Linked DNA regions of Homo sapiens: region 2 is reported to be linked to region 1. Evidence: microRNA targets listed by miRTarBase, many of them from high-throughput screens and not tested one by one. Region 1 holds a microRNA gene; the other region holds the end of a gene's coding sequence.
What was found. Region 1 holds the annotated microRNA hsa-miR-6721-5p (UGGGCAGGGGCUUAUUGUAGGAG, at 2,951-2,973, shown strand). A microRNA usually pairs through its seed, bases 2 to 8, with sites in the 3' UTR of a target mRNA and lowers its output. Matches are read on the target gene's strand: a 7mer-m8 pairs with bases 2 to 8, a 7mer-A1 pairs with bases 2 to 7 and ends in A, and an 8mer does both.

Region 2: the mRNA of DLGAP4 is a reported target of hsa-miR-6721-5p. Seed matches in the 3' UTR shown: 7mer-m8 at 2,990-2,996, 7mer-A1 at 2,597-2,603, 7mer-m8 at 2,535-2,541 and 7mer-m8 at 2,209-2,215.

The regions. Positions count from the first base shown.
Region 1 is chr6:32,168,672-32,173,056 of GRCh38, reverse strand. MIR6721 (microRNA 6721) reads left to right here and starts at 2,941; the gene lies at 2,941-3,027. AGPAT1 (1-acylglycerol-3-phosphate O-acyltransferase 1) reads left to right here. Exons shown (of 7, transcript NM_006411.4): 2 at 1,552-1,760; 3 at 1,987-2,120; 4 at 2,457-2,632; 5 at 2,797-2,892; 6 at 3,019-3,091; 7 at 3,609-4,385. The coding sequence starts at 1,561. The coding sequence ends at 3,781. RefSeq lists an enhancer at 2,559-3,758.
Region 2 is chr20:36,526,410-36,530,794 of GRCh38, reverse strand. DLGAP4 (DLG associated protein 4) reads right to left here. Exons shown (of 13, transcript NM_001365621.2): 13 at 2,162-3,982. The coding sequence ends at 3,764. All of the region lies in intron 2 of DLGAP4-AS1 (DLGAP4 antisense RNA 1), which reads left to right. Among named protein-coding and RNA genes, the nearest start is that of MYL9, 13 kb to the left of the region's middle.

The DNA of each region.
Region 1 (4,385 bases):
ACTTGGTGAGGCCTCACACACTGTACCTGCCCACGCAAAGTGTCACTAGAAGGAAGGGAAAGGGTAGTAGGATTCGTTTGCCTGTCTGGAGGTAGGATTGGTCTTTGTAGCTATTCCAGGTATGTCCATAAGTTTACCTAGGAATAGGGGAGCTGCCTGGGTGGAGAGGGATTTTTCTAGTTATGCATTTACATTCTTTTATCTGTCACTGGGTGTAATTATAAATTTGTGTCTATGTGTGAACATGTTAGTCTTTGTATGACTGTGTGTCTGTTGGCATTAGTGACACGAACTTTTAATCTTGCCATTTGGCCCTTGGGTATATGGCTGTGAGTGTTCTGTCACAATCACCATATATGCTGTGTGCTGTGTTCGTATATATATATGCAATACATACCAGTGTCAGCGTAATGGAGTGGTTAGGAACACAGGCGGCTTAGATTTAACCTAGAAACTGCTGTTTAGGAGCTGTATGACCTCAGGTAAGTTATTTAGCCTCCCTGGGCCTATTTCCTATAAAATGTAAATAGTAATAGTACTTTCTAGACTATCATATGCATCATTTTAAGAGTTTAACTTAATGTATAGACCAGTACTGTTCTACAGAAATATAATGCAAGCCACAATGTAATTTTTTTATGGTAGCCACATTTTTACAAGGCAAAAAGAGTGAAATTAATTTTAGTAATATATTTTCTTGAATCTGATAACATCCAAAAGATTATAATTTCTTTTTTTTTTTTTGGAAATGGAGTCTCACTCCATTGCCCAGGCTAGAGTGCAGTGGCGTGATCTTGGCTCACTGCAACCTCCGCCTCCCGGATTCAAGCGATTCTCCTGCCTCAGCCTCCCGAGTAGCTGGGATTAAAGGCATGCGCCAACAGGCCCGGCTAATTTTTGTATTTTTAGTAGAGACGGGGTTTCACCATGTTGGTCAGGCTGGTCCTGAACTCCTGACCTCGTGATCTGCCCACCTCGGCTTCCCAAAGTGCTGGGATTACAGGCGTGAGCCACTGCGCCCGGCCCAAGATTATAATTTCAAAATGTAGTCAGCATAAAAGATTAGTAATGGATATCTCACATTTTGTTTTTTATTCAGTCTTTGAAATCTGATGTGTATTTTACATTTCCAGCACATCTCAGTTCAGACTAGCTGCATTTCAAGTAGCCACATGTAGGTGGTGGCTACTTTCTCGGACAGCACAAGTATAGACCATTATAAGACCCTTACCAGCTACAAGTGTTAGCTATTATTCTTGTTGTCATTTATTATCAGGTATCTGTGAATTGTAGATGTCTGTGTCTTGTGTCTCTTGTCTGAATATATCCGGAGCCTTTGGGAAGAGTGGTGGGAGAGCAGTCCTGAGCTCTTTCTCCACCACCCTCATCCTAGAGAGCCTTCCTGGGAAGGTTTCAATGAGACCCCTGCCCCAGTTTGTGTCTCAGGCCCTTGTCCTCATAGCACCAGCCCCCAGCCCTGCCTTCTGTGCCTTGCCTACCCCACTCTCCTCCAGAAACCAGGCTGATTGTCCCTTGCCCCATCCCCTGCAGGTGGCCAGAATGGATTTGTGGCCAGGGGCATGGATGCTGCTGCTGCTGCTCTTCCTGCTGCTGCTCTTCCTGCTGCCCACCCTGTGGTTCTGCAGCCCCAGTGCCAAGTACTTCTTCAAGATGGCCTTCTACAATGGCTGGATCCTCTTCCTGGCTGTGCTCGCCATCCCTGTGTGTGCCGTGCGAGGACGCAACGTCGAGAACATGAAGTGAGGGGCAAGGGGTCTTGGGCAATGAGGGAACCTAAGGGTACAAAGTGAGTAGTGGATTGGGGGAAGGGGGCATGGTGTGTGTAGAAAAGACTGAGAGAGACCAGAGACAGGGAATGGGGAGAGGACTGCAAAGGTGGTCAGAAAGACAGTAAGGTGGGGGGAGCTGAGGCATGCAGATGGACATCAATGGATCCCACTGGGACCCCTTGCCATGACCCCACAGGATCTTGCGTCTAATGCTGCTCCACATCAAATACCTGTACGGGATCCGAGTGGAGGTGCGAGGGGCTCACCACTTCCCTCCCTCGCAGCCCTATGTTGTTGTCTCCAACCACCAGAGCTCTCTCGATCTGCTTGGTGAGACCCCACCACAGGGCACACCTCCCCCAGCCATGCCTCCCCTCCTGAAACCTTCCCTAGAATATCTTCTCCTAGAGATCCTCAATTCCCCTTCCTCTGGGACATTGCCCCCTTGCCTCCCACTCAGGCCTTCATTCCCTGGGTAGAACTGCCCTCATAAGCAGGTTACATATACTTTTGGTCACCCTTTCCTTCACTTGGGGCCCCCCTCCCTGCCTAGTCTCCTCCTTCACCTCCAGTCCCTACCAGAGGGTGATGAGCTGGGTGAGGTGGGTTGCCTTCTGTGACACTCTGCCTCCACCCCGATCCTCACCCACTCCCACCCTGCCCAAGGGATGATGGAGGTACTGCCAGGCCGCTGTGTGCCCATTGCCAAGCGCGAGCTACTGTGGGCTGGCTCTGCCGGGCTGGCCTGCTGGCTGGCAGGAGTCATCTTCATCGACCGGAAGCGCACGGGGGATGCCATCAGTGTCATGTCTGAGGTCGCCCAGACCCTGCTCACCCAGGACGTGAGTCATCCTGGGGAAATGGGGGATTGGAGGGATACAGAGTAGAACAGTTGTAAATAAACTGATATGCAGGGCCAGTGGGCCTCAAAGGTCCCATTATAACATCACACCTATTCTGACTCCTCCATATGTATTTGTCTTCTTTGACCCTCTTTCTCCCCCAGGTGAGGGTCTGGGTGTTTCCTGAGGGAACGAGAAACCACAATGGCTCCATGCTGCCCTTCAAACGTGGCGCCTTCCATCTTGCAGTGCAGGCCCAGGTGACTACTGCTCTTCGTTCTGCTACTCAGCTGCCAACCCCCACCATTCCCTCATCTCTGGGCAGGGGCTTATTGTAGGAGTCTCTGAAGAGAGCTGTGGACTGACCTGCTTTAACCCTTCCCCAGGTTCCCATTGTCCCCATAGTCATGTCCTCCTACCAAGACTTCTACTGCAAGAAGGAGCGTCGCTTCACCTCGGGTGAGGGCTTTGAGCAGTTCTGGGGTAGGGTGTGTCCGGAGAGGCTGGGAGGACATCCCTGTGAGGCAGGGGGATCATTCAGTGTCAGAGCCATGAGATGTCTACACAGTCATCTAGTCTAACCCCACATCAGCCAATAAGTCTTTACTAAGCACCCACCATACCCTGCCAGATGGGTAGCACTTGGTCCCACCAAGAGAGGCTGTTACTAATCTTAACAGGAAAGATAAGGCCTGTGTGCACAAAGCTGTAATGAATAACACTCATTCAGCAGTAAATGCCAAACCCAGAGGAGGGGGGCTGGAGGGGTGCTGAGGAGATGTCTGAACTGGGGATTGGAGAAGGCTTTGTATAGGAGAAGGGCCTCAGAAGTGGCAGCTGGCAAGCCCAGGGATGGTTGTCCAGGGTTGGGGGAAGAGAACTGAAAGGTTGAGGAAGAGTATCACTCGGAAGCTGGGCCCCACCTGTGGGCAAAGACCTGGGTGGACAGGCCATGATGGTGCTCCCCTTGCCCCAGGACAATGTCAGGTGCGGGTGCTGCCCCCAGTGCCCACGGAAGGGCTGACACCAGATGACGTCCCAGCTCTGGCTGACAGAGTCCGGCACTCCATGCTCACTGTTTTCCGGGAAATCTCCACTGATGGCCGGGGTGGTGGTGACTATCTGAAGAAGCCTGGGGGCGGTGGGTGAACCCTGGCTCTGAGCTCTCCTCCCATCTGTCCCCATCTTCCTCCCCACACCTACCCACCCAGTGGGCCCTGAAGCAGGGCCAAACCCTCTTCCTTGTCTCCCCTCTCCCCACTTATTCTCCTCTTTGGAATCTTCAACTTCTGAAGTGAATGTGGATACAGCGCCACTCCTGCCCCCTCTTGGCCCCATCCATGGACTCTTGCCTCGGTGCAGTCTCCACTCTTGACCCCCACCTCCTACTGTCTTGTCTGTGGGACAGTTGCCTCCCCCTCATCTCCAGTGACTCAGCCTACACAAGGGAGGGGAACATTCCATCCCCAGTGGAGTCTCTTCCTATGTGGTCTTCTCTACCCCTCTACCCCACATTGGCCAGTGGACTCATCCATTCTTTGGAACAAATCCCCCCCACTCCAAAGTCCATGGATTCAATGGACTCATCCATTTGTGAGGAGGACTTCTCGCCCTCTGGCTGGAAGCTGATACCTGAAGCACTCCCAGGCTCATCATGGGAGCTTTCCTCAGCACCTTCACCTTCCCTCCCAGTGTAGCCTCCTGTCAGTGGGGGCTGGACCCTTCTAATTCAGAGGTCTCATGCCTGCCCTTG
Region 2 (4,385 bases), not on the chromosome of region 1:
CCCAGCTACTTGGGAGGCTGAGGCAGGAGGATTGATTGAGCCCAGTTGGTTGAGGCTGCAGTGAGCCGTGATCACACCATTCTTTGCACTTCAGCCTGGGCAGCAGAGTGACACCCTGTCTAAAAAAGAAAAGAAAAAACAAAACAAAACAAAACCAGACAGACATGGTAACTGAAAGCAGTGACTGATCCTTAATGGGACCCTGGATGGATAAAAGGGAGAAGGTATAAGGGACAAGGTTGTGAGGGCACCTGGCGTATGGGCTGTGCTTTAGGCCATATTCATATAAAAGGAGGTGCTCCCTGGAACATTCCTTTCTTAAGTTTGAGGGTGGTGATGGTATTGTGGTTGTGCAGGAACGTCCTCGTGCCTGGGAATTGCATGATGTGTTTTGGGGTGAAGTATCAGTGTATGCCACTGACTCTCAGATGGCTCGCGGGGAAAACGATGTGTATGTATCCGAGAGGGATAATGCTCATATGGGTGAAATATCAGTAATCGGTGACTCTGGCCGCGAGATATGTGTTCATTATTATACTGTCCCTTCAATGGAGGTGGCGTCTTCTCCACTGCTGTGCCAGGAGGGCTGGGCGTGGGGGTCCAGATTCTGTACATCAGACACCCCTACCCCATCTTGTGCTTAATAGAGTGCAGGATCCCTCCTGAGACCCTAATCTAACCCTCAAGTCCCTTCCCCTGCCACAGCAGAAGCAGGAAGGCTAAGGGTCCATCCCCAATCCCCATGGCCCATCCGGGAGAGCCGGCTGCTAGCTGCACCCCTGAACGTCTGCTTCAATGCCTGATGCAACTGGAAACCTCTTCACTTACCCTTCAAGTCACCCCCAGCTGGGTCTCAGGGTAGGGGTAGGTCTGGGAAGGTGCCAGCCCTGGAGTTAATCCAAGCCACCTGTGGTCACCAGATGCTCTGTCACCACTAACAGGTGTGTTGGGATCCGGGGTCAAGGGCTGCTCCAAGCACAGGGGTCTGGCCACAGTTCGGATGGGCTCCCAGGGGGCTCGCTGGGGTGGGCGAGGTAGCCTGAACAAAGCTGCTGGGAAGGCAGGGTCCGTGCATCCCCTGGGCCTGAGATCACGAGCTTCTTGGCTGGCTTGGGCCAAGGGAGGAGACCAGGAGTCTGTGGCTCCAGAGCCTGGCCAGAGAACTTTCTAAAAGGCATGTTCCGGCCGGGTGCGGTGGCTCACGCCTGTAATCCCAGCACTTTGGGAGGCCAATGGGGGCTGATCCTGAGGTCAGGAGTTCAAGACCAGCCTGGCCAACGTGGTGAAACCCCCATCTCTACTAAAAATACAAAAATTAGCCGGGCATAATGGCAGCCTCGGGAGGCTGAGGCAGGAGAATTGCTAGAACCCAGGAGGCGTAGGTTGCAGTGAGCCAAGATCGCGCCACTGCACTCCAGTCTGGGTGACAGAGCAAGACTGTCTCAAAAAAAAAAAAAAAAAAAAAAAAGGAAAAGGTATGTTCCTACCACTGGGGCTTGGCACCTCCTGCTTCTGCCAGGACTGCGTGCCGCTCCCTCCCTGAAAGCTGGCTACCCACTCATCCTTCTGGTCTCTACCAGAACACTCCTGCCCAGGCTGGGTTTGGTGGTCGCGCTGCGGGGTCCTGCAGCCTCATTCTGCTGCGTCTTGTTTTTTACCACCTGTCATTGACTTGACCTTATCTGTCACGTTCAATATCTGTCTCCCTCACCAGAGCGAGCTCTGCCCCAGCACTGGGCCTGTAGAGGAGGTGCTCTGGAGATGCACTCAGGGCTCGCACCTGACAGAGTGGAAGCAGCTGCCAGGCAGGGGGATACCGAGTACCCCACCCTGGAGAATGTGCAGACTGTGGATCTGTGGGGGGTGTAAACTGTCCTCTAGGGTCGTCTTTATCAGCCTATCCTGGCTCCTGTGATAGCATCTATCTTTCAAGGGTTTATTTCAAACAGGAAGCTGGTAAGTGCTGCACACTGATTTTCGGGAGAGGGGACGGTCAGCTCCATCTTCCCGCCCCAGATCACAGAGCTGGCATGTGACAGCTGGCATCCCGGCTGGCACTCCCATCAGGCTGTCTCCACAGAGCTGCCTTTTGGGAGGGGTCTGGTTCAGTTTCCTGGGCCCACTCTGCTCATCCCCCTGCAATAATGCCACAAGCCCTTGGTACACGTTACCTCATTTATTCTCACAACATGCCTGTGAGGTAGGGAGGGGCAGGGACTGTCCCCGTTTTACAGAGGAGGAAGTTGAGGCACACAGAGGTCAAGTGACTTGCCCAAGGTCACAGACGGCGGCCAAGCTGGAAATGGGCCCCGGAGCAGACCCTTGGTTCACCTGGGGACGGGGGGGGGTCCCCCCCTGCAGCAAGCGCCAGCCAAGAGGATGTCTCGGATGCCAGAGAGGCGCATACACAGCATAGAGCAGCCCCTCAGGTACTGAGCTGGCTTCGGGGCTCAGCCCCTGCCCTCCCCTACCCCGCCCTGCAGGCCCGGGCCATTGCAGCTCAGGGCTCGTGACACCCTGGGAGTGGGATGCGGGGGCAGGAGAGAGAGAAGGATAATTGGGGTTAAAAAAAAAATAGAACAGAAAACTCAGAGGCTGGGCAGATGGGCCCTTAGGAGTGCGGGGCGGGGGGAGGGGGGTGGAGACCAAAAAAAAAAAGGGCTGCTTACACACAAGGTATATATTTTTACACACACTTGTACACACACCTAGATATAGTACATGTAAAAATATATGCTATTCACACACCCGCCTCCTGCCAGGTGCCCCGAGAGCCAGCGGCGGCGGCGCTGGGTGGGCATGGGTGAGCAGATGGGCGTTTGTTAACTATACACTCTAAGGTCTATGTGCATATGTACACATACATACAGACACCGCCGCCCGCCCCTCGGGCACCGGACACAGGCGCGGCTGAGGACTGACGGCCCCCTGGAAGCCACTCGGGAGTCCTAGATTTTGCTGAAGGAAGAAGGGGCTGGAGAAAATAAAAGGGCAGGAGTCTGGAGTGTGATAACTGTGGCTTCGTCTCATTTCCACCCGCCAAGACTAAAACTTCCCTCATCTGCTCAGCGGTGAGTGAGTCCTGCCTGACACTGCCCAGGGCTGGCGGGGCACCTCCCAGTGAGGCGCCTCCATCTGCGTGTGTGTGTGTGCGCGTGAGGTTGTGTGTGAGCACTTGGCGGGGGGAGGGAGGGGACGCATGTCCATCTCTCTGTCCTCTGGGCCCTCAACCGCAGAGAGGGCTGAGACCCAGAAAGCCGCTTGCCACAATGGTGACCACTGTGTGAGCTCTGAAGGGAAAAGAGAAAAACATAAGAATGAAAATCAAGGTCAGAGCGGGGATAGCTGGGGAAAGGAGGGACATGGCAGGTGCCCAAGGCTGCCCTTGGACTGTCGTCATCTTGTAAACAAGCTAGTGTGAGTTCTCATCAGATAGAACGAGTAAAAAGACCGCAGTATGGAGGCTGGGCCGGGAGTTGCCGACGTCCATCTATCTAGTCCACCACGGCCAGCAAGAGGAAAAAAAAAGTTTTCTAGTTTCGTGATTTTTGTTGATTTTTTTTGTGAGTAAAATCTTCATAACCTAAAGCTGGGAGGGACCCAAAAAAGCCAAATTGTGAGCCCTTGTATGCGTCAATTTGAAAGTTGGCTCAGGGTCTCTAGACAGAATAACCATAGCAAAGGTTGAGAAAACTCTGTTCCGTTCGCACTTAGTTTTTGTGTTTTTAATGATTTAAAATCGTTTCTTTCCTCCTGCATGGTCTCAGAGCCTGGTCTGGGCCTCCGGGACATAAATCTCGATGCTGTCTGCGCTCTCGGTGGCTGAGTTCTGCCGCACAGAAGCTGCCCGCTTGGCCGCCAGGAGTCTCTTGCGGGCCTCCTGGCGCTGCTTGTCGCTGGCGTCTGAGGCCTTGTCGCGGCTCACTGCCGGCTTGGATTTGGCTGGCTTCTTTGGGACCGGAGGGGGTGGTTTCTTCTCTTCCTTTAGTGAGACAGTGAGGAGAGAACAAAAATAAAATAAAGGTGCCACGTTTTGTGTGGCACTACCCCCACCATATGCCGGCAGCTGGAGTCTCCACCCCAGCCTCCCCGCATCGGGCACAAGCAACACACACTTGGAATCAGGAAGCCACGAGAAGCGATGACTGACAGTGGGAAGAGCTCAAGGCACTGGAGCAGAAAGCAAGCCTAGACTCCGAGAGCGCTCGAGCAGCGGGGACGGGCAGATCCCATTGTCCACCCTCATGTTGAATCACCGGGAGCCCGAGACTCGGGCAGGAACTAGCCCGAGTCACAGTCAGAGACAAATTTAGGGCTTCAGGTCCCATTTTACAGGCTATTCTAGGGGATTAGACAGGGCCACGGTTCAACAGGGGTCACTGGTT